Homo sapiens: one gene and its partners. The protein of the gene in region 3 interacts with the protein of the main gene of each other region in a biochemical or structural test. Each region holds a gene or a part of one and is shown on either strand. Other genes may lie near its edges.

Region 1 (6,930 bases), on a different chromosome or scaffold from region 3:
AATGCCTGATAATCTGAAGTGGAACAGTTTCATCTCAAAACCATCCGCCCCCCACCAACCAACCCCGTGGAAAAATTATCATCCATGGAACCAGTTCCTGGTGCCAAAAAGGTTGGGGACAGCTGCTTTGAGGCCACCATAATCGAAATAAAACCGTGTTGCTATGCATTACATTGGCTAAGTAAAAGTTTACCGGGGAGCTTAAATGGTATAGAGGATAGAACAGGACTGGATACTCCTTTAAAAGGTAAAATAAAGTAAAAAAAGACCAACAACAAAAATATGAAAACTTCAGGGGCAGATTCATACCTAGGTAACAACGGAACAGAGACAGAGCCTATATAAACTAAGAGTTTTATCTGTGTAAGCACAAGCCAAATCCCATCAGGTAACTATGCCATCCTTGAGAAACTCTTTTAGGGCCATCAGCAGCATCCTGAAGCCTGACAATGCCACCCAGGTATCAGTGTTAGAGGCAGCTTATTTCCCTAACAATGCCAGCGCATTCTGCACAAAGTCAGAAATGTGACTGTGCAGCATTCCCAGGGAAAATTACTTTTGAAATTGAGTTTTCAATCTTTTTGTTAGGGATTGTTTTTAAACAACCATCAGGCCAGAAAATGCTTCCATTTTTTATCAGGGGAATGCAGTAGGCATATTAAAGTTGGATTTTAACGAAAAGATAATGAAAGAAGAATGAAAGATTAGCAGAATTAGCTTAACCTCTAACACTGAGCACCTGGACTGCACATTAGAATCACCTGGAGAGCTTTTAAAAATTCTAATGCCCTGGCCCCAGCCCAGACCAATTATATTAAAATCTCTGGGGTGGGACCCAGGCATGAGTATTTTTAAAGCTCTCCAGGTAGTTCCAACGTGCAGCCCAGACAGGAATCCACTGCTCTACACGGAGTTCATCTAAATTTTGAATATCAAATACTTCCCACTAAAGTAGGATAAAATCAGGCGCAGTGGCTCATGCCTATAATCCCCACATTTGGGGAGGCCCAGGCGGGAGGATCACGTGAGGTGAGGAGTTTGAAATCAGCCTGGGCAAATAATGAGACTACCTCTCTACAAAAAGTAAAAAATGAGCCAGTCATAGTGGTGTGTACCTGTAGACCCAGCTACTCAGGAGGGTGAGGTGGGAGGATCTCTTGAACATAGGAGTTTGAGGCCGCAGTGAGCTTTGATTGTGCCACTACACTCCAGCCTGGATGACAGAGTGAGAATAAGTCTCTAATAATAGTAATTAATAACAATATAATAAGATTAAATTAAATTAAAAATTAACAAATAATGAGGCCGGGCCTCACGCCTGTAATCCCAGCACTTTGGGAGGCCAAGGCAGGTGGATCACCTGAGGTCAGGAGTTGGAGACCAGCCTTGCCAACATAGTGAAACCCCATCTCTACTAAAAATACAAAATTAGCCAGTTGTGGTGGCACGTGCCTGTAATCCCAGCTACTCAGGAGGAGGCTGAGGCACGAGAATTGCTTGAACCTGGGAGGCAGAGGTAGGAGTGAGCCGAGATAGCGCCATTGCACCCCAGCCTGGGAGACAAGAGCAAAACTCCATCTCAAATAAAATAAAATAAAATAAAATATTTAAAAAAATAATAAAGCAGGATTAACCAGGCATCCTAGGAGTACGATTACCCTAAAATATCACCCAACTGAATACAAAACTCTGTCATTTTAACAATTTGTCTTTTTAAGTCAAATATACCTAGATTTGACTCTCTTCAGATATTTCCAAAGCAGAGGCAATTACCTCTTAAATTCAGATATTTTTCTTTAATATACTTATGGTGAGCATGAACTACAAACTAGCTAAGAATGAGAGTCTAAACCCCACTCTTCCACTCTCCTTGGTTGGCCTTACCAAAAAGAAAAAAATAGTAAAGACAGAGTAACTTCTCTTAAATGTTTCAAAACAAAATAATTAAGATGAATCTCAGTAAACAACCATGAAATTCAGTGAGGTATTTCCTTTATTTTTTAATGGTTACAGACTCAGGGTCTGTCATGGAAATAGCTGCATAGTTTTGACTCTGCCAAATCACTCACTGAAATTACATCACAGGAGGGCTGCCAGTGCCCTGTGGGGGCTCTGAATAGCATCTACCCCTTTGGCCATTTGGGACCTGCCTGCTGAGCTGTGAAGTGGCAGGTTTTTTCCAGCGTACAGACTCTTCCTAATTATATAGCATCATGACAATTTGTCCAGCCTAATTAGGGGAGGTTATCCAACCCTGATTGAGGACACTCAATAAACAATAATGGAAAAGACAGCTTTAATTGTCCTGAGGCTTGAAATTTCTCCCATGGAAAATATCAGGGGCAGTGGCTAGATTACTGGATTTCTAAGAAAAGGGTAATTCTCTATACCAGGGAAGGGAGTAAATCTTGAAAGCAGCCATGAAAATAAACATCAAAAACCTCCCAGCCCTCAAATGTTATTTGGTCTCTTTCCCTCCAGAAGACATTCAGGTAGTAAAGGGAATGAAATCAACACTCCTTAGTTGCCTGATACAAATACTAAGTCATTCCAATCAGGAAGATAGTTGTAATTAAGACTACTACACTAGTTGACTTCCAGGTGATGGTGGTGTATTTGTTTCTCAGTATAAAATGGCATGGGAATACTTTTCAACAATAAAAAGAAAGGAAGTACTGTTCTATAATGCCTCATGGATGAACCTCAAAAACATTCTGTGCAGTGAAGGAAGCCGCACAATGTATAATCCCATCTATAAGAAACGACCACTAAGAAAAATCTATAGAGACAGGAAATAGGTTAGTGATTGCCTAGGACTAGGAGTGGGAGAAGAGACTGACTGACAATGGCGAGGAGATCATTTTGGGGAGGATGAACCTGTTCTGAAATTGGCTTGTGGTGATGGTTGTACAGCTCTGAAAATTTACTAAACATCATTGAACTGTACACTCAAAACGGATGGATTTTATGGCATGTAAATTGTAACTAAATAAGGCTATTTGAAAAAGTTTATATTGTACCAGAAAGGTTAGCGTCTGGGCCTGGGTCTGGTTCTTCCGCTGCCATGCAGGTCGCCTGTCACTAACACTCCTCAAGAATTCTGCTCCTTCTCCATTTCCATTTGTAAAACGTTAGCAGGATGGTGCGGGGAGAAGGAGAACACATTATCAAATCTGAGATTCTGTGCAGTCACAAGACACCAAGTCTGGGAATTTCGAAAGGCAATCAGGCATAAATTCTTCCTGAGGTGAGAAAGAAGCAAAGGTACCGGCTGCTGGGGTCAGGGCTGTCTCACACGCGTGGCTCTAGGCAGGAGCACAAATTGAACCACTGGGGAAAGTAGGACTCCAGCAGAAACGAAGGCGCAAGGCCGAATCCCTAAGGTCCAACGAGCTAGCAGTCAGTTGACAGGGTTTCTAACAAAAACGCGGCATGCGTTTACCAAACCTAGGGTGGTTTTATTTCAGAAGTAGGAACTCTTTCCACGAGAGCACCAAGTTGAGAAGTTCGGTTCTCAGGCCGCGTGGACCTGACAGCTCTCAGAAGCTCCAGGCCTCGCTGGGTGGGGCGGGTAGCGGCCGCCGCTGCCTCAGCAGCCCTGGTCCCGGCAGAGCAGGGCTGGCGAGGCCGCTGCTGCCGCCGTCGGGGCCGCCGGCCCTCCACACTCGTTGAGACGCCGGCACGGGGACCTTCGTGCCCCTCTAGGGACTGGCGCCGCGTCCAGGTGGCCGAGCCTGCGCTGCTGGAGGAGGCGCCTCCGCGCCGGCCTCACCCCGGGGCCGGCAGGGGGCGAAGGCGGAGCTGGAAGTCGCCGCCGGGCCCCGGGGGACCGGCTCCCGCGCTTCCTCCCGCGCCCCCCGCACAGTGCTCATGCGCACGGCCCAGCCTTTATAGCGGCCGCGGGGGCCTTGCCTTCCGCACTCGGGCGCAGCCGGGTGGATCTCGAGCAGGTGCGGAGCCCCGGGCGGCGGGCGCGGGTGCGAGGGATCCCTGACGCCTCTGTCCCTGTTTCTTTGTCGCTCCCAGCCTGTCTGTCGTCGTTTTGGCGCCCCCGCCTCCCCGCGGTGCGGGGTTGCACACCGATCCTGGGCTTCGCTCGATTTGCCGCCGAGGCGCCTCCCAGACCTAGAGGGGCGCTGGCCTGGAGCAGCGGGTCGTCTGTGTCCTCTCTCCTCTGCGCCGCGCCCGGGGATCCGAAGGGTGCGGGGCTCTGAGGAGGTGACGCGCGGGGCCTCCCGCACCCTGGCCTTGCCCGCATTCTCCCTCTCTCCCAGGTGTGAGCAGCCTATCAGTCACCATGTCCGCAGCCTGGATCCCGGCTCTCGGCCTCGGTGGGTGCGCGCCCCTCACGACCCCGGCCCCTTGCTCCGCTGGGTGGAGGCTGGAGCCAGCCCTCACGCTTCTCTCTTCGCAGGTGTGTGTCTGCTGCTGCTGCCGGGGCCCGCGGGCAGCGAGGGAGCCGGTGAGTGGGGGAGCTGGGGTGCGTCCAGGCGGTCGCAGGGGCTGAGCACCAGCGGGTACAAGCGGGACTCAGATCCAGCCCCTTGGGCTTCAGCCCTACCGCCTGAGGAGGAAGGCGCGAAGGTTGAGCCGCCGCGTGGCGCGCCCGCGTTAACCCCTGCAGCCGATCTGCTCCTGCTCACCTGTTTCTCCCATGGTAGGGGGCCCCTGGGGTCCAGTGGGGGGACGTTCTCCAAGAGCACTAGGAAGAAGGCCTCCTCCAGGCCCACCCACAGCCCCAGACCCCGGGCCCGCTGAGCGCCGGCAGCAGGAGGTCGAGGAAGGAGGACTCCTTGAGCCTCACCGAGGAGCGCACCAGTCCTGGGCTCTGCTGCGTTTGGGGGTGGAGGAGAAGCCGCCCAGACCCGACTTCAGGTTGCCGTAGCCGAGAGAGAGGGAGGCGAACGTCGCTGTCCCACCTTGTTTGACTCGCTAGCTATGTTTCTAGGTGTAACCCCTATAATCAGAAGCACTCGCGGTCTCACTCTACACGCTAGAGAGTTTAAAAAGTTTGTACCACGTGTAGAGGTCCGGGTATGGGTGTGTGGTTTGGTGTATTTTCCAGTGTAAAAGGCAACGCTTTCCTAAGAGCTACCGTTTGTTTTCCTTGAAAGTAGGAATGAGGGTTAAGTATCCCTCATGGCTGTATTTCTCCCGCTCTACTTAACAAAAGTCAGTGTTCGCAACTAAAGGCGGTCGGTCTTGGCACCGGATTCCGATGCCGCCCCCATCTCAGCGGAAAATGGGAGGAAGGATTAAGGCTGTTTGATGATAGGTATGAGGCTGTTTAGGGGTAAGGATTTTAACCTCTCAGCTCTCTAGACTGCTTCAGAGCTAAGAAATGGGCATTGCGCCTGCATCCTTCCTTCTCTTCCATGGAATGTAAGGTACCTGTCACCACAAAGGGCACAGAGGAGGGTGCTTGTCACAGGCAAGGTACTCAGTTGGACAGTATGGCCAGAAAGTATTCCTCTGCCTTGGAAAAAAAAGGTTTTTAAAATTAATATATGTTTTAAAAAGGTTTGGATAACTACAACTTCCCATGTTTGAAAAATAGCATTTAATAACATTAATCTCAATTTAGTATCGACAGTAAATTCACAAATTAACATGTTGTATTATGTTATCTTGTTACTTGTTGCCAAGAGCTTGTCTCTTCCTAGCATCATTTATAGTAAAAACTGATTCTTTGTTAGGTTGACAGTGTAAAACTTGAGAATATTAACAGTGCTTTCTAAAAATGCATCCGCTGCTTGATAAATCTCACTGGACAGATCTGGAGCAGAAATAATCAGGTTCAATTAAGATAAAAATGCTGTATTCTGAAGGGATTCACTTTTCTGTTTTCTGTCCTTCGGGAGTTGTAGAATGTTGTTTGGGCAAATTAACCCCACGGCTTTAATTTTCTCATCTATAAAATGAACAATCAAGTTAGATAACTTTCTGTGAATCTAAGCATCTTTTTGTTGGCTTCCTTAATGTGTGAGTTTAAGGATCTGCATTTGTAGGCTAACTAGGATAAATGGTCCTATGAAGGAAAGGATGGCTTTGATTTGTGCACATGTCTATGAAAATGTTCCACAAAGGCTCAATCCAGATTTACTATCTTTACCTCAAGCAACTGTGTACATAGCGTCATCAAAGTTGAGATTTAAAAATTTTTTTTTTTCTTCTGGAGACAAGATCTTATTCTGTAACCCAGGATGGAGTGCAGTGATGCAATCATAGCTCATTGCAAGCTTGAACTCCCGGGCTCAAGCAATCCTCCCACCTCAGCCTCTCCAGTGGCGGAGAGTACAGGCATGCACCACCACGTGTGGCCATTTAAAAAAAATTTTTTTTTTTTAGAAGAGATGAGGTCTTGCTATGTTGTCCAGACTGGTCTTGACCTCCTGGACTCAAGCAAATCCTCTTGTCTTGGCCTGCTAAAGTGCTGGGATTATAGGCATGAGTCACCACGCCCAGCCAAGATTTTTTATATTTCTATAATTAATATTAAATGACTTTTATTTTCTAGTTCAGATATAGTTCCAATTATGTATTTCCAACCTGGTTAAGAACTGAGAAGCCAGGCACAGTGGCACACCTGTAATCCCAGCTACTAGGGAGTTGGAGGTGGATCACTTGAGCTCGGGAATTTGAGCCTAGCTTGGGCAACTTGGCGAGTCCCCATTTCAAAAACAAAAACGAAATAAAAACCCAGAACTTTCACATTAGAGTTTTATAGTGGCTGGGGACTATATTAAATTGGAAAACAACCTTGTGGCTTGCCAAAATCTGGAATGGTATGGAAGGGTATATAAGTCAATAGTCATAACTAGAAGTGTAGAAATTAGGGAAGTAAAACTTAAATCTCACACTGTAGTCTCCCCACCACTATGCCCCAAGAAGTCCTAAGAATGCTTACAATATTATCTCCTTTTTCTTCAG
Region 2 (7,022 bases), on a different chromosome or scaffold from region 3:
AATACTTTCTACCTAGTGGATAGGCTAATTGATCACTCAGTGTAAAACGATCACTACAAAAGTTAAAAGGACATAGTTAAAAAAATGGATCCCTGTGGGTTAGAAGTTAGTGAGATGTAGAATATAATCCCATCATCTCAGTTCATAGTGTGCCCAAAGTCAATTTTACTGTAATTTCGATGTGACATTTGAAATGAATCTAGGGAACAAAGTGGCATTTGTTTATGCATTATAATTTCTCAAGTACAGAGAAAAACAGTTCTGATGAAAAACAAAACCCTCATTTAAAAATTCTCTTGGCAACATCTACATCCTTAAACTACTGGAACACAATGAATAATTTCTAATTATCCTGTGTATTGATTTGGTATATTTTTTGCTATAGCCATGTAATTTCCTTGAATCCCAAAGTGTTTCAGGCTGTTGCTGAACTGAAAAGATGAAAAAGGGATAGAAAACTGTTTTTACCCTGTCATCTGGAATTTTATCATTGTCATCGTCATCATCACAGGCATCACCAATTCCATCCTTGTCATAGTCTTCCTGCCCTGAGTTGGGAAGGTTGGGGCAATTATCCTAGGAAAGAGAAGATATATATCACTGCTTCAGTTGCCTTCCTCATGCTGAGCTCATGCACGAGGGAGTGTACCTGGAATTCCAAATAGAAAAAGAACAGAATTTGGCTCAGTAACAGCATATTTTTTTTATGGGAAGACAAGAAAATAAAACTTTTCTTGGGGGATATACATACAGAATTTGTGTAAATGCTCTAGGCTTTATAGATGTTGTGAACACAAGTCATGCTTTGCTGGTATTTGGATAGAGTACTGAACTTTTTTTTGGACAGAAGAGTTGACTATGGAACACAGTTGCCCAAAAAGAGCTAGCCCTGTTCATGTTTTTGGCACCAAGTGATTTAATTTTAATAGGAATTAGTGCCCCTCTCCCTTTGGGAGATTTAATCTTTCAGTTTCATGTCCAAACTTTAAGTATTTAAAATTCCTTAGCCTGTGTTTTGATAAGGTGATGGGCCCTCTTTCTGGAGGCACACAAAGGACCTGGCTCTACCTTTTTGCAGTGGTAAGTCGCATTGGCCACGCACACCAGGTTCTCATTGGGCCAGCCATCCAGGTCTGTGTCCTCCCCGCAGATGATGCCATTGCCAGCGTAGCCAGGCTTGCACTCGCAGCGGTACATGGGGTCGCTATAGTGGCCCAGGTAGTTGCACTTGGCGTTCTTGTTGCAGTCGTGGGTCCCATCCGTGCAGGGGTTACGGGGCTTGCACACCTGAGGGTACACCATGCTGCTGTTACACAGAGCTTTTGAGAATCCTCAGATATCATGGAAACAAGAATCCAGATCCCTGTCATCTCTGAGTAGACAGAGGCTCCATTTGGAAGAGTGTGGGTTACCTCTGTCCCTCCCCATTCTCCCTGAGGCTATAAGCAAACTTTGCTTTATGTTTATTTTTCTTGAATTTGCTCAGCACCTAGGCGTTTACAAGTCCATCTGCTCACAACTTATTCCAGAGCAGCATTTTTAAATATGGAAGACTGTTTTTCCCCTGCAGGATTTACCATGGATTTTCTAATCACGTTTCTAAAACTAGACCGTACATTCATCTCCTCGCCCTTTTTTTTTTGGTGAAGGGTATGAAATTACATTCCTCCCGCTCCCAGTTATTTTGGTCAAGGACAGCTCTCCTGTCCTCTGGTTTACTCGTCTAGTTGACTGTACCTGTTTGTTGGCCGTGGCATGTTCGACACCCTGGCCGAAGGGCTGTGAGCCGGTGAAGCGTGGGGGGCAGGGCAGGCAGTTGTAGCCGGGGTCCGTGTTCTCACACCGGTGCTCTCCATTGTGGTTGAAGCAGGCATCAGGCACTTCTTTGCACTATGGAGGAAATAAGAGCGTGCATCATGTTTAGAAGTCACTGCCATAAGGAAGCGACTGCACAGGTTAGCTGCTTTCCTAGATCCAGAAACTCGGAGCCCCATCAGTTCCTCACCTCATCAACATCTGTGCACTGGATGCCATTTCCACTGTAACCAGGGGGACAAGCACCACATTTCCAGCTGCCATCAGGGTAGCTAGTACACTTCACGCCGGCAAAGCAGGGATTGGACAGGCATCCATCTGAGACAAGGAGAGAGAGACAGTCACAGTAAATGGTTGGTCTAAGCTGCCATACTGCCATGCTGGGCACTTAACACAGTGTAAGATATTATAGGGTATAGGGAACCGATAACTTGTTGGGATTATGTTGTCCACCTGCATCTTAGAGCAATCAAATCGCTCAGGACTAACCAAGCTGGAATCTCCTCGAATGCTGACTGCAGCATTCAGTAAAAGAGCAAAGCTCCTGGGTCGTTTCATCCTGGGCTGCGTGGCTCACCAATTGGACAGTCCTGCTTGTTGCAGATCTGGTTTTCTGTTACATCACCAACGCAGTCCTTGCCTCCAAACTGGGGTGTGGGGTTGTTGCAGAGACGACTACGTTTCTGTACCCCTCCTCCACAGGTGACAGAACAGATGTCCCATGGTGACCAAGGACCCCAGCCTCCATTGACTGTAAGAAGATGAACCACAGGCAACAATTAAGATCAACTTTCAAATCCCTCCCTTGTCATAGACTCTCCTAAGCCCGTTCAAGAAACCTCTGCTTCTCTGACACATGGAAAGAATGCTGGGGAAGAGGGTGAGTTTGTTTTTCATTAAAAGAAGTTGCTGAGCCTGCAGGACTTTGCTTCTGTTTGTTTCTCTAGTAGGTAACCTTCCTGCTCTATGACCCACTGAACTGCAGGCTGCAGATGCCAGGCAACCAGCTGGGCAGAGCTGCTGCCCATGCTCACCCTTGCAGCGGACCTCACACTTACTGGGGCAGGCGTCTTTCTTGCAGGCTTTGGTCTCCCGCGCTTCGCCTTCACAGGGTTTCCCGTTCATCTGGGGGCTGGGAGAGTTGCAGAGCCGGATCCTTGTGATCACACCATCACCACATGTCACAGAACAAGATGACCACGGGGACCAGTGGCTCCAGCCACCATCCTGTTTAACTAAAGTACAGAGTTGATGGTCACAAATGGTTTTGGCTTAGAGACAGCCAAATAGAGGCTCCCATCAGGAGCACGCAGAAGTATTTCCAGGAAATGGTCAATGGCAACTAAACCCAGTGTACGGTAGAAATTGGCTCCTGGCCACATGCCCAAATGTCAACATGGAATGTTTTCTACCAGAGAACGGATAAGTTCGCTGTTTTTATGGGTTGCTGTTAATATCCTAACATTTACAGGGTGCTTACCATAAACCAAAACTCAGTGCTAACTGCTTTACATGCAGTATCTAAATAAAATGCTCAAGATAAACTTATCAAGAACTATTATTATCTCCAAGTTGCAAATGAGGAAAGAGCCTCAGAGAGGGTAAGTTGTGTTCAAGGGTGCACAGCTAAGCAGTGGGATTGGGATCCAGAGATCCTAGAACCCGTGTTCTTAATATACATGCTGTGGAGCTGCCCTTGGTGACGACAACAAGGACAGGTCAGTTCTCCACGTCCCTGAGAGGCTAAGATGCTTACATCTCTTGTCACACTCCTGAATGTGGCAGGTCCGTGTCTGGACCGAGGAGCCCTCACATCGGTTGTTGAGGCTATCGCAGGAGCGGCCGCGCTGCTGAATTCCATTGCCACAGCTCGTAGAACAGGAGGTCCACTCGGACCATGGAGACCAGCCATCGTCCGCAGAGTCGCTGGCTGCAGGGGAAACAGAGGTTCATCAGGTACGTGATGATTAGGACAAGCTGTTCTTTAGAGGGCTCTGTTCAGGGCCCTCCACTTGCCAGAGGGTGAAAAGCAATATATTTATTTCTTTTTGGCTTTACTGAGGTATAATTGACAAATATTATATACATTTAAGGTGTATAATGTGATGTTTTGATATACACATATATTGTGATTACCACCGTCAAGCTAATTAACACATCTCCATCATCTTACAGTTACTTTTTTTGGTGATGACTTAAGATCTACTCTCTTAGCAAATTTTAAGCATACAATCCAGTATTATTAACTATGGTCACCATGGTGTACATGAGCTCTCTAGAACATAATATGAGCCGGCACAAAGTTGCAGTTATACAGGATGAAAAGCAACATATTTCTTAGGCCAACGGCCCAGGGGTTTATCCCAGGTCATGATGTGTACAGCAGTGGGGTAATCGGATGCTTTGCCTGGCTCAGTACAGCTGAGCCTTCCCACAGTGTATGCTCTCCTATTCATTGATTTTCTTTCTCCTCTCAGCATTGCAAATGAGTTTTCCTTTACTGACTTAACATATCTGGGTAGGCATTTCCAGTCTCAGACTTCCAAGAATGCGCGAGTATGAGGAAGCTTATAGGAGTCATTTCTGTCAGGGGAGCCATACACCATGTGTTTGACAGATGAGTGTGAAGGCAGCCGAGCTGTTGTTGGTTCTGGCTCCAACTCGGCCGTGAGTTAGTCAGTTTGTTGTTCCTCTCACCCCAGCGTTTGGGGCCTTCTCTGCACATATTGTCATAAGAGGACAGCATGTTTGTTTACCATCTGCCCAGGCACCACGGCTACAATCACATCTAGCTGTATCAGACAGAAGACAAAGAACTTACTTTCTGTGGTCATTAGTTGTAAGTTTTCTTAGCAATCCCTGATTCAAGTTCAAAACTTTGCTACCTCCAGCTAGCTTTGTTCCTTTTAACGCACATGTTAAGTGAATGCGGAACAGAAAATAAATGTAAAAACGACCATTACAGTGCCAATATCGCTAATATGATCCCTGGATGGAATTGGTTATTCTGAGCTGTGACAAGGGTGTGTTTGTGTGTGTGTGCATGTGTGTTTCTGTGTGTGTGAAGGGCAAGTGCTGTTTTCCTGTTTTCTTCCTTATCTTAGTTGTAATGAATCACTTTTATAACTTGTACCTGCTACACTAAGTATTGTCTCAGCAAAGTCATTCATTTTACTGGTAACAAAAGCCAGGGATAACGTGCCATGGAACGATATCGTGCCTTATTTCTTTTGGTGCTCTAGAGCTCAGATTGCTGCTATTCTCTTAGGCCCTCTTATCCCTACAGATGAAAGGGGCAAAACTTCCAGGCCCGATCAGGCCAATGCTTACACAGTAAGCCTGTCAATATCTCTGGTGAGCAGATTTTTCTTAACTCTGTGCCACTAAGGTCAAATTCTAAAAGCAGTCAACTTAGAGCTGTTGCTGCCACGTCTTCATCTCTTTTCCTCAAAGCAAAAAATCAGAATTAATGAGCTATACCAAGATCTTCACTGCCATTACTGCAATCCAGATGGGTAATTACGATGTACTCATAATGGAGTTTTGGCTCTGTACAGCAGATAAGCTGTCAGTTAACCAGCTGCTGCAGCAAGAAACTGAATGGAAGCATGATGGAGATGGGGGTGGGGTTCCAGTGTTGTGCTCGGCTGTCTAGGATGTATGTAGAACTGACCTAGTCACTGAAGAATAGCTATGCCATTTGAGAAACTTACGCCAACAGCGAGGACAGCATTCTCCATCAGGAACTGTGGCATTGGAGCAGGGCATGATGGGGCAGGACACCTTTTTGCAGATGGTAACTGAGTTCTGCAGGGCAAGAGAGTGAGAGGGGAACAGGCTGCTGAGCATGTTGCATACAGAAGTCTACATCCTGTAACATTTCCTTTACAAGCCAAAACATGGTCAGGGCTGTCAATGCTCTAGTGGAATGATTTTCATAGATCTGTCTCTGTCATATTTGCAGCCACCACTATCGTAGAGACAGTTCTAGTGCTAGTTTACGTGTCACTCCATTCCTTGGAAAGTTCTTTTTAATTGCTACTTAGTCAAGGGTGGAAGTTACAGTACAAAGAATTTATAGCAGAGGAACCAACAAACATCATGGGTCAAATCTATGTCTGAAATCAAACTCAGAAAATTCAGCCAGGACTTTTACATTTTTATATTATGTGTTTGGGGGGAGGAAGGAAGATCTATAAGCACTTTTTCCTCATCTATAGATCTGTGATCTGTCTTTATATTGGAAAAGAAAGGGAATTTAATGAAGTTGGTTCCCACAGCCAGTCATCTGTGATTTGTATTTAAGCAAATTCAAATACTTTGCTATTAATAGATAAGCCAGGTGAACCTCCAAACTCACTGGCCACTGGCATGCGGGGATGCTAGAGTGAATCACACACCTGGCAGTGCCATCTGAGCAAAGCAGACAGTAACATCCTAACAGTGTCAGACTAAGTGATTTGAAAAACAATTGCTACTGTACTAAAAGAACCTATGCCAAAGCTGAATATAAATCAGGGTTGGGAAAAAAAAATGAATGTTCCAACCAGGTTTTATTTACCTGACATTCAACACTTAGTCTTTGAACTAAGGTAGGTAAATTATTCAGATGTCTTAGTAGATTCATTCTCTTAGATACTTAGCCTGGGGTATAATTAATACTTTGATAAACCATCTGAGAGTTTAAAGAAGAACTTATAGATGCCATAATTGCATCTTAAAGAAAAAAAAAACACTTTGTTATCAGGCCATGGAACATAAAAAGAATCTCTGTGGCGATTAGGGTATTTCCCCAAAGATGTAGGTTCAAACAAAAGCCGTCGATTCTTATTCTGGCTGGTGAAGGTCCCTTACCTGACAGTGACACTCAGTGCAGCTATCAACAGTCCATTCCTCGTTATTTCTGTACTGAACTCCGTTGTGATAGCATAGGGGAGGCCGCCTCAGCTCATTGGCCAACTCTTTGTTCTCTTCAGTCTAAATGGGAGAGAATATCATTAGTGTCCCCCCGCATTTTCAGTCATTTGGGACCATCTGCGATAAACCTTCCAGGGTTCATGCTAACGGGCTGGGTGCAGAGGCCACTGACCACTTTGCGGATGCTGTCCTGCAGCGTGGTCACAATGGTGCGCAGGCCCCTGAGTTCCAGGACCATGCTGGACAGCTCATCACAGGAGATGCCGCAGATGGCTTGCAAGTCCTTTGTC
Region 3 (7,279 bases):
GGAGAGGGGGCATCGGTTAATGCGCTCCAGCCCAGACTACAGGAGAGCCCACCCTCGCCCATGAGGACCCAGGGAGGAGAGGGGGAAATGCTAGGAGAGGGGCCACTCCCCGTGCGGATCAGATTTCCCGGGGAAGGGCGGCCCGGGAAGCGCCGGCGCAGGGGCGGGGCCAGGCTGCGCTGGGTGTAAGAGCCGCTGAGTGACTCTGTGGCTGCGGCTCTGGACACGGCTCGCTCACAGACACCGGGAGAGTGAAAAGTGGGATTAAATGACTGCCCCAGAAAGGAGCCAGCGCCGTAACCGGATCCCCTAGGTGTGGACGGAGGAGCCCAGCACCACCATAATTGCTGCTCCAAAACGGCTGCCGATAGCATCCCGGCGCGCCTGATCCGGTTCCCCTCATTACCGCAGGGCCGTATAAGTGATTCTTTGTGGCAAGCCAATTAAAAAGCTACCTCTTTCGGGGAACTGTTTTGCTTCACCGCCGCTCTGCGCAGGGCTGGAGCCGAGAGGTGGCGGCGGGCGGGCACAGGGGGGCATTGTGGGAGAGGGGGTCTGGGAGTACGAGAGAACCCACTGGACCTCGTCTCTCATGAATGGGGCTTTTCTCGAGCGCACACAGAGCCCGATTCACAGGTCTCCGCGAGGAACCAGTTTAAATAAATACGGGCAGCGTTTCAGCCCCATCTGGAAGCCATCGCTGCCAATCTCCCAATGCAAACAAGCCTCACAAAGGAGGATTGAGATCTCTCCCCTGAGCCAGGGGCACTTTCGGAGGCGAGGGCTCTGAAATGCAGATGAGGGTCAAAGACGCCGCCGCCAGTAAGTTTCTCAAACTCGTGGAAAGATGGAGAGGAGGGGTGTGGCCGAGCTCTAGGTGTCTGACATTCCTGACGTCCACGCAGACTGCGCATTTCCCCACGTCACACCTTTGGGTCCGCTGACCCCAGGCGGGGGAAGTTATAAAAGGTGGGATGCTCCAGGGCGCAAAATCAGCCTCTCGGATGCAGAATCACACTCCCTCTGGGAGGAGGAGCGACTGGAAGGTTTGGGCCGGAGAAGCTGTGGAATCACTCCCTCCCAGGAAAGATGCGGCGATGAGAGAGCTCTACCGCCTAATTAAGCAAGCGACCCTAATACCGGATGGAGAATTTGAGAATTATTTTAAAGCCACCCAGCTAATTCCATTGCGCACTAAGGCAGGGGTCAGTCAAGAAGACAGCTTTGTGGGCGTGTGCTTGTAAATGTAGTACAAAAATATAGTCAGTCTGAGTCCAGGCCACGTATAGTCACGCTGTATTCCTCAAATGCCCAGGAGCGCGCCTCCAGCTTAGCGCACTACCGGGTGACCCGGCCAGAGTCTCCTGCTCCCGGCTCCTCGCAGCTGCGCCGCAGGCTCCAGCCCTGCCCCCGCTGCGCTAATGACCGGAAAGCCCGCCTGAGCCCGCCGCCTTCCACGCTATCCCTGGAAACAGCCTGGTGGCAGGAGAGGGCCCACAGAGCCTCGAAGGCAGAGAACTTTTATTCCCCCCGCCGAAGAGTTTCCCTCTGCGATTGATTTACAATCTGTAACATACAAAGACAGGGCTGGAATCCCAGCCGTCGGAAACGTGCCCAAACACGTGGAAAAAAAAATCCTCTCTACCTAATACACTTTCCAGGCTTCGTTTGTCCTGAATATAATCCCAGACAGTGGACCTTACCAAAGGAGGGGTAGAAAGGTGCAGTCCGAACAGCATTTGGACCCGACTACAAGAGCCATCTCTAACTATACCGGTTGAAATAGTTGTAGCAACCGTAGCAATCGACCAGCCTGCTCCCCTTCCCTGACACACACATACACACACACACACGCACACACACACACACCACGCAGCCTGGCTCGGTGAGTTCCAGAATTTAGAAAAGTAACTCATTGTAGTACCTCGGGGCGGCGGGGAATGGGGTAAGACCGCGGGGAAGGGGGCGCTATTTTCGGGGGCATTTGAAAAGCACGGTCTGGTTGGAATGTTATCGTCTTTCAGATGGCCTCTCCTACTGGAAGTTTCTGTACCCTTTATCAGAAGAGAGGCGCAGGCGGACGGAGGGAAGTCGAGATGAGCGCTAGGGCTGCACCTTGCTCCAGGGCCAGCTGGGAGGGGGAGGGTACCCTAAAGAGGCGCTGAGGTCTCAGAGGGCCTATCGGAAGCCGTTCTTTGTGGCCTGGGATTTCAGCCCACCAGTGTCAGAGTGTTAGTCCCCTTTGTCTAACTCTGCTTTGAGCCCACCAGCCACCAAGCCTTGGACAGGCTGTGAAGTCAACCCTTTGGCGTTTGCTTGCTCCCTCGCTCGCGCTCTCTCTTTCCTACTTCACCTAAGTTCGATGAGTTGAGATCTGTTTTTGCTGAACTCGAAGTGCTTCGAAGAGGCGAGCTGTGTGCATGTGCGCCTAATTATCAAAGCTGGTGGAAAAGAGCCCATTTATATCTGTGCGCAAACTTCTCCGAGCCAACACTTTGCAAGTTCAGTATTCTAGCGCAACGTAGGGACCTGCAAATACTTGCAACTGCGATGGGCACCGAGGACCCTGGGACAGAGTCCTTGATTGGCAGAACTCTTCTTGGTGAACTTCTGCGTGTCCTGTGCCTAAGTCGGCGCGCTACGACCCCGGGAGCCGTTTTAGCCCGGAGCCGCGGGCTCCAGAGCTGGAGCGGGCCGGGGAGAAGGATGCTGAGGGACGCATGGAAAGCAGGCAGGCAGGCAGGGGCGGGGGAAGACTTACGGACATCCTGGCCCTGACACCGAAGGACAGCGGCGACGAGCAGCGTCAGCAGCACCAGCGTCTGGGGAGCCCCGAGGCGAATCATGGCTCACCGCGGGGCCTGGCTGAGCCGGGCCCGGGCGGAGCGCAGCGAAACGGCAGGAGCACGGCGCGGGTCCGGGTCTCTACCGCGCCCTCATGCAGGAGGCCCTTGGAGCAGGAGGGGGAAGCGGGAGACCCGGCAGCCCAGCAGCGCTCTGCGTCTTCTCCCCGCCGCGGCGCCCGTTATATGCGCCCGGCCCCTTTCGAGGCTGGCGAACTCGCCCAAACCGCGGGCCGCCCCCTGCCCCCCGCTGGGCTGTAACCTGAACCGCCCGCCCCCGGAGCCCGCCTGGGCCCTGCCAGTGCCCGCACCTGCCCAAGCCGGACCCCCCTCTCTGGGAGTCACGCTTCCCGCCCTCCACCCCTAGTGCGCCGAGTGGCCTGATCGGGCGGGGCGCAGAGATGGCCCCTGCCCCCCAAACCCGGGGCTGCGGCGCTGCCCCCCTCTGACCACAGGCGGGAAGGGTGGCCTCCGGCCCCTCCCCTCGGAGTTCTGCCGGAGTTGGAGGGGAGGGGGTGTTTGCAGAGGCGCAGGCCGAGAGCCCTAGACCAAGGACGGAAAAGACATGGGAGGGAGGAGGGAAAGCGGTAGAAAGGAGCAGCGGAGGGCGAGGGGGCACCGCGTCAGGCGTTTGGGAGTGGGGACAGGGAGGAGCCCACAGAGATTCAGAGTCCTAAATCTTGGAGACAGGCTAGCTGAGCCAGATCTGAAGGGTTACCCCGACCTATCTTTTAGCCCTTCCCTGCAGTACCTGGTCCCCAGACTCCCACCTGGACGTTCACAGCGACTGCCCTCCACCCCTCCCCCATCCAGCTCTGCGTTGAAGGCTTCCTCTGGAGCACAGGCCGAAGTTGGCCTGAGCCGACAGCCAGGAAAAGAGCTGGTGTGTTACTGCACAGAAGGAGACCTGTGTGAAGGTGTGGGGGGCAGGGGCAGGCCCTGGGAAGGGGACTGAAAGAGCCACAGAGGACGGAGGGAGCCGAGACTAAACGGTGCAAGCTGCCTGCTGTGGGGGGACTGTCTAGCTCCAGGCTCAGACGTGGTGTCTGCTCTTCCTGGCTGGGGTCCGGGAGTCCCCCGGGGAGTGGGCACTGCCGGCCGTCGTAGAGCAGCTTTGGCCAGGGACGGTTGGTCACTGCTGCGGCCCTGGCCAGGGATCGGGGAGGCCGATCCAGCTGGCGAGTTCTGTGAGCCGGGGAGAAGCGCCAGAATTTCCCAGTCGGCCCCCTAGCCCTCCGCTTGCCGCCTCACCTCACCTTCCCCGGTGAGCGCCCTCTCTCACCTTAGCCAAACTGCCTTCTTCCCAGGGCTTAGCTGGTCTCTTCTCTTGGTCTCCGGTGCCTCCTTTCATACCAGGGAGGAAACGTCCCCAAACAGACCTTCCTTTTGAGCGATATGGTCCCCCAAAGAACTATAGGCAAAATGAAACTCAGAATTTGGGGTCTGACTTAACCAGAACTTCTGCCCTCCTGGGCAGTTTTGTTTCTCTGGAGCTTTCCCCCTAGAAGCTGAGAGCACTTGAAAGAAGCTACTTCTGGGCCTTAGGCTTCCACCAGGGGTCCTGGGACCCCATCCCTAGCCTATCATGCTTTGACACTTGTCCTGGTAGAGGCTGGAGTTCCAAGTGCTCTGGTTGGAAAGGGAAAGAACTCATTGTTGAAGGAAATGCTTCTAGGCTTTGTCCAGTCTGGATGGAGATGGGGAAGAATTCAACCAGTTTCCAGCATCTCCCCTACCTTCCACGGGCCTTGTCTGAGTCTCCATGCTCCCATTCAGGGGCTTGCATTAAGCTCTGGGCTCTTCCTCAGGCCCAATCTCTGCTAGAAGAAAGCTGGTCTCTTGCCATCAGTGCCCCATGTCCTCTTTGGGGCTCAGAAGGTCCTATATTCTCTACCTGGAAGATAGAATGACCAAATTCCACACATTTATCAAGACCTCCTAGGTTAAAGCCCCTCTGAGAAGCCTTCTCTGATATCTCTAGAACACAACGTCTCCCTGGCTTTCTGAATCCCCCTGGCATTTATAGCCTAAGCTACATATGTTTTTGTGTAGTTTTAATTTTTTCCCCTTATATCCATTGGTCTTTATCTCATCAATGAGCTTGGAAGATGCTTGGGGACAAGAACTGTGCCTAGCACAATTCTAACACATAGGAGTTAGGAAAGCCCCTGTGGACTAATAATTTAGATACAACTATAAAGGCATTTATACAACTGACTTCAAATACAAGTTGTCATAAAAATTCAACAGAAAAAAAAAGAATTTGGGAGAACACACTAAAGTATGTGGAAAAAATCGAAGCCTAGTTCAAAATGATCCAGTTTAGTGAGTAGCAAAGTGGTACAGACTCGTTGCAAATTTGTTCTTAATTTCATCCTCTAGCTCTGTGATTCATCTTTGCCAATAGACTGTGTCTACATATAAGAGCTTTGGATTCCTTCCAGCAATCATGGTCCATCTATGAGTACAAGTTAAGCTCTCCACCCACTGTGGGAAAATTTCTTTTCACCAGCAACGGGAATTGACATAAGAAAAATAAAATTTAAAATTTAAATTGACAAAGCCAAAATAAACTATGGAAATTATTAAAATTCTAAAGCCAATTGAACACCAACATTAATATTTTACCCATCTGTGACTCCAAACAACTAATTAAAAACCTCTAATTTGTGACTCAAACTGGAATTAGACCTATATGTGGCACACATATGCAAATCACTGATTTGGAAATTGATCGTCCAACAATCTCACTATCCATACCATACCCAAGAAACTGAAAAGAAGGGGAACTAAACCACTAAATAGCCAGAATTGATGTTATATAAAGCTATGCATTTTGTGCACTGTAGAGTCCTTCTTACTCCATGTCTGCTAATTCATAGTTTAGATATTGTATTAACACGTAATGGCATCTGACCTCACCAATTAGATGCAGAAAACTAGAGGTGAGATAGGAAAGCAGCAGTTGTTGATGAAGCACAATGAGAACAGGAAAAAGGGAGAGTAAGAGAGGACACAGAAAAGCAATGTGAAGTTGACACAACAAATACAAAACATGGTAGCCGAAGGTCAGTGGGGTAGGGTCAATGCCCTTACAGTCATCAATGCTTCCAGGGAATATCCCGATCTACAGCATCTGCTGTAGTCCCTGCGATTCATAATGATAAACTGAAATGTCCAATAAAATGCTAATTTAAGTTTAATGTGGTCTCTTTGAGGAGACAGGAAATATGTATTCCATATTTGAGAAAGGTTGTAAATAAATGTTCATTCACTTAATGTGAAAAATATTCTATCATAGCAGTGTCAGACTAATAAGGAAATGCTGCAATTTCTGGAGCCACTGAACTGAAAACAAAGAGCTTCTGTTTTCCCCAGTTGGTAGAAGAAGAGCATCGATGGCCGAGATGAGTGTCCCACATGGCCAGCCTCACTTACACCTTTAAGTACAGCATGGGTAACTGTAGGTAGAACAGTTAGAAATTAAACAGGTACAATAGGGTGCTGTGCCTCACACCTATAATCCCAGCACTTTGGGAGGCCAAGGCCAGAGGATCACTTGAGGTCAGGAGTTTGAGACCAGCATGGCCAATATGGTGAAACCCCATCTCTACAAAAATATGAAAATTAGCTGGGTGTGGCGGTGTGCACCTGTAGTCCCTTAGGAGGCTGAGGCAGGAGAATCTCTTGGACCCGGGAGGCAGAGGTTGCAGTGAGTTGAGATTGCGCCATTGCACTCCAGCCTGGGCAACAGAGCGAGACTTCATCTCAAACAAAAGAAAGAAAGAGAGAGAGAGAGAGAGAGAAAGAAAGAAAGGAAGAAAGAAAGAAAGAAAGAAAGAAAGAAAGAAAGAAAGAAAGAAAGAAAGAAATTAAACAGTCACAATCAGTGTATCTACCCCAAGTCAGCCCAATTCAGAGAAACAGATGGATTAAATCAGCAATATTGTGTCGTGTAGACAAAATAACCATTTCACTATTTTTCTCTCTTTTATGGAGGCATTAAATTTAGACTCAGGTTGACACAGCCTTATTGGGAAAGATATTTGTAGACAGGCTGTAAAGAAAAGATATCTTTCTCTTCCTCTACACAAATCCCATTTAAAAATAGTGATAAAGTGAAGAAGGATTCACATTCCAAAGAGGTAAGCCCACCCCAAATATGGCAGGTGGTGAATGCACAGACTTCACACAGCAGCCGTGCCTGGGGGTGGTGAGCCCAGCTTACTCAGTGACACTCAGCTTCTGTTGGTTGGGCTCCGTTCAGACAGTCTTTCAAGATGTGTTTATGTTTTCCTTTGGCATTTTGGGGGCAGAGTAACAGAATCAAGACTGTCCAGGATAGGGTTTTCCAGATTTATGGTGTACATTCCATTCCATAGGAGCATAAATGTGTTACTATGTATTCTCAAATGCAAATAGCACCAAGAATCCCA

Evidence for each region. The genes of interacting proteins can lie anywhere in the genome.
Region 1: the proteins of COL2A1 (region 3) and COCH interact in a biophysical measurement, tested with the Homo sapiens proteins (one study listed by IntAct).
Region 2: the proteins of COL2A1 (region 3) and THBS1 form a complex in vitro, tested with the Homo sapiens proteins (one study listed by BioGRID).

Annotation. Positions count from the first base shown.
Region 1 is NC_000014.9:30,870,642-30,877,571, forward strand, and holds the start of COCH (cochlin isoform b precursor), read left to right. Parts: upstream 1-3,917; 5' UTR 3,918-3,950; exon of another isoform or gene 3,951-4,274; 5' UTR 4,275-4,297; coding exon 4,298-4,331; intron 4,332-4,414; coding exon 4,415-4,462; coding exon of another isoform or gene 4,463-4,657; intron 4,658-5,537; exon of another isoform or gene 5,538-5,911; intron 5,912-6,930. UniProt on the Homo sapiens protein: Plays a role in the control of cell shape and motility in the trabecular meshwork.
Region 2 is NC_000015.10:39,584,070-39,591,091, reverse strand, and holds part of THBS1 (thrombospondin-1 precursor), read right to left. Parts: coding exon 6,905-7,022; intron 6,793-6,904; coding exon 6,670-6,792; intron 5,623-6,669; coding exon 5,529-5,622; intron 4,967-5,528; exon of another isoform or gene 3,839-4,966; intron 3,746-3,838; coding exon 3,572-3,745; intron 3,051-3,571; coding exon 2,874-3,050; intron 2,567-2,873; coding exon 2,393-2,566; intron 2,134-2,392; coding exon 2,006-2,133; intron 1,891-2,005; coding exon 1,738-1,890; intron 1,288-1,737; coding exon 1,069-1,287; intron 577-1,068; coding exon 469-576; intron 1-468. UniProt on the Homo sapiens protein: Adhesive glycoprotein that mediates cell-to-cell and cell-to-matrix interactions.
Region 3 is NC_000012.12:48,001,476-48,008,754, forward strand, and holds the start of COL2A1 (collagen alpha-1(II) chain isoform 1 precursor), read right to left. Parts: upstream 3,002-7,279; 5' UTR 2,847-3,001; coding exon 2,762-2,846; intron 79-2,761; exon of another isoform or gene 1-78. UniProt on the Homo sapiens protein: Type II collagen is specific for cartilaginous tissues. It is essential for the normal embryonic development of the skeleton, for linear growth and for the ability of cartilage to resist compressive forces.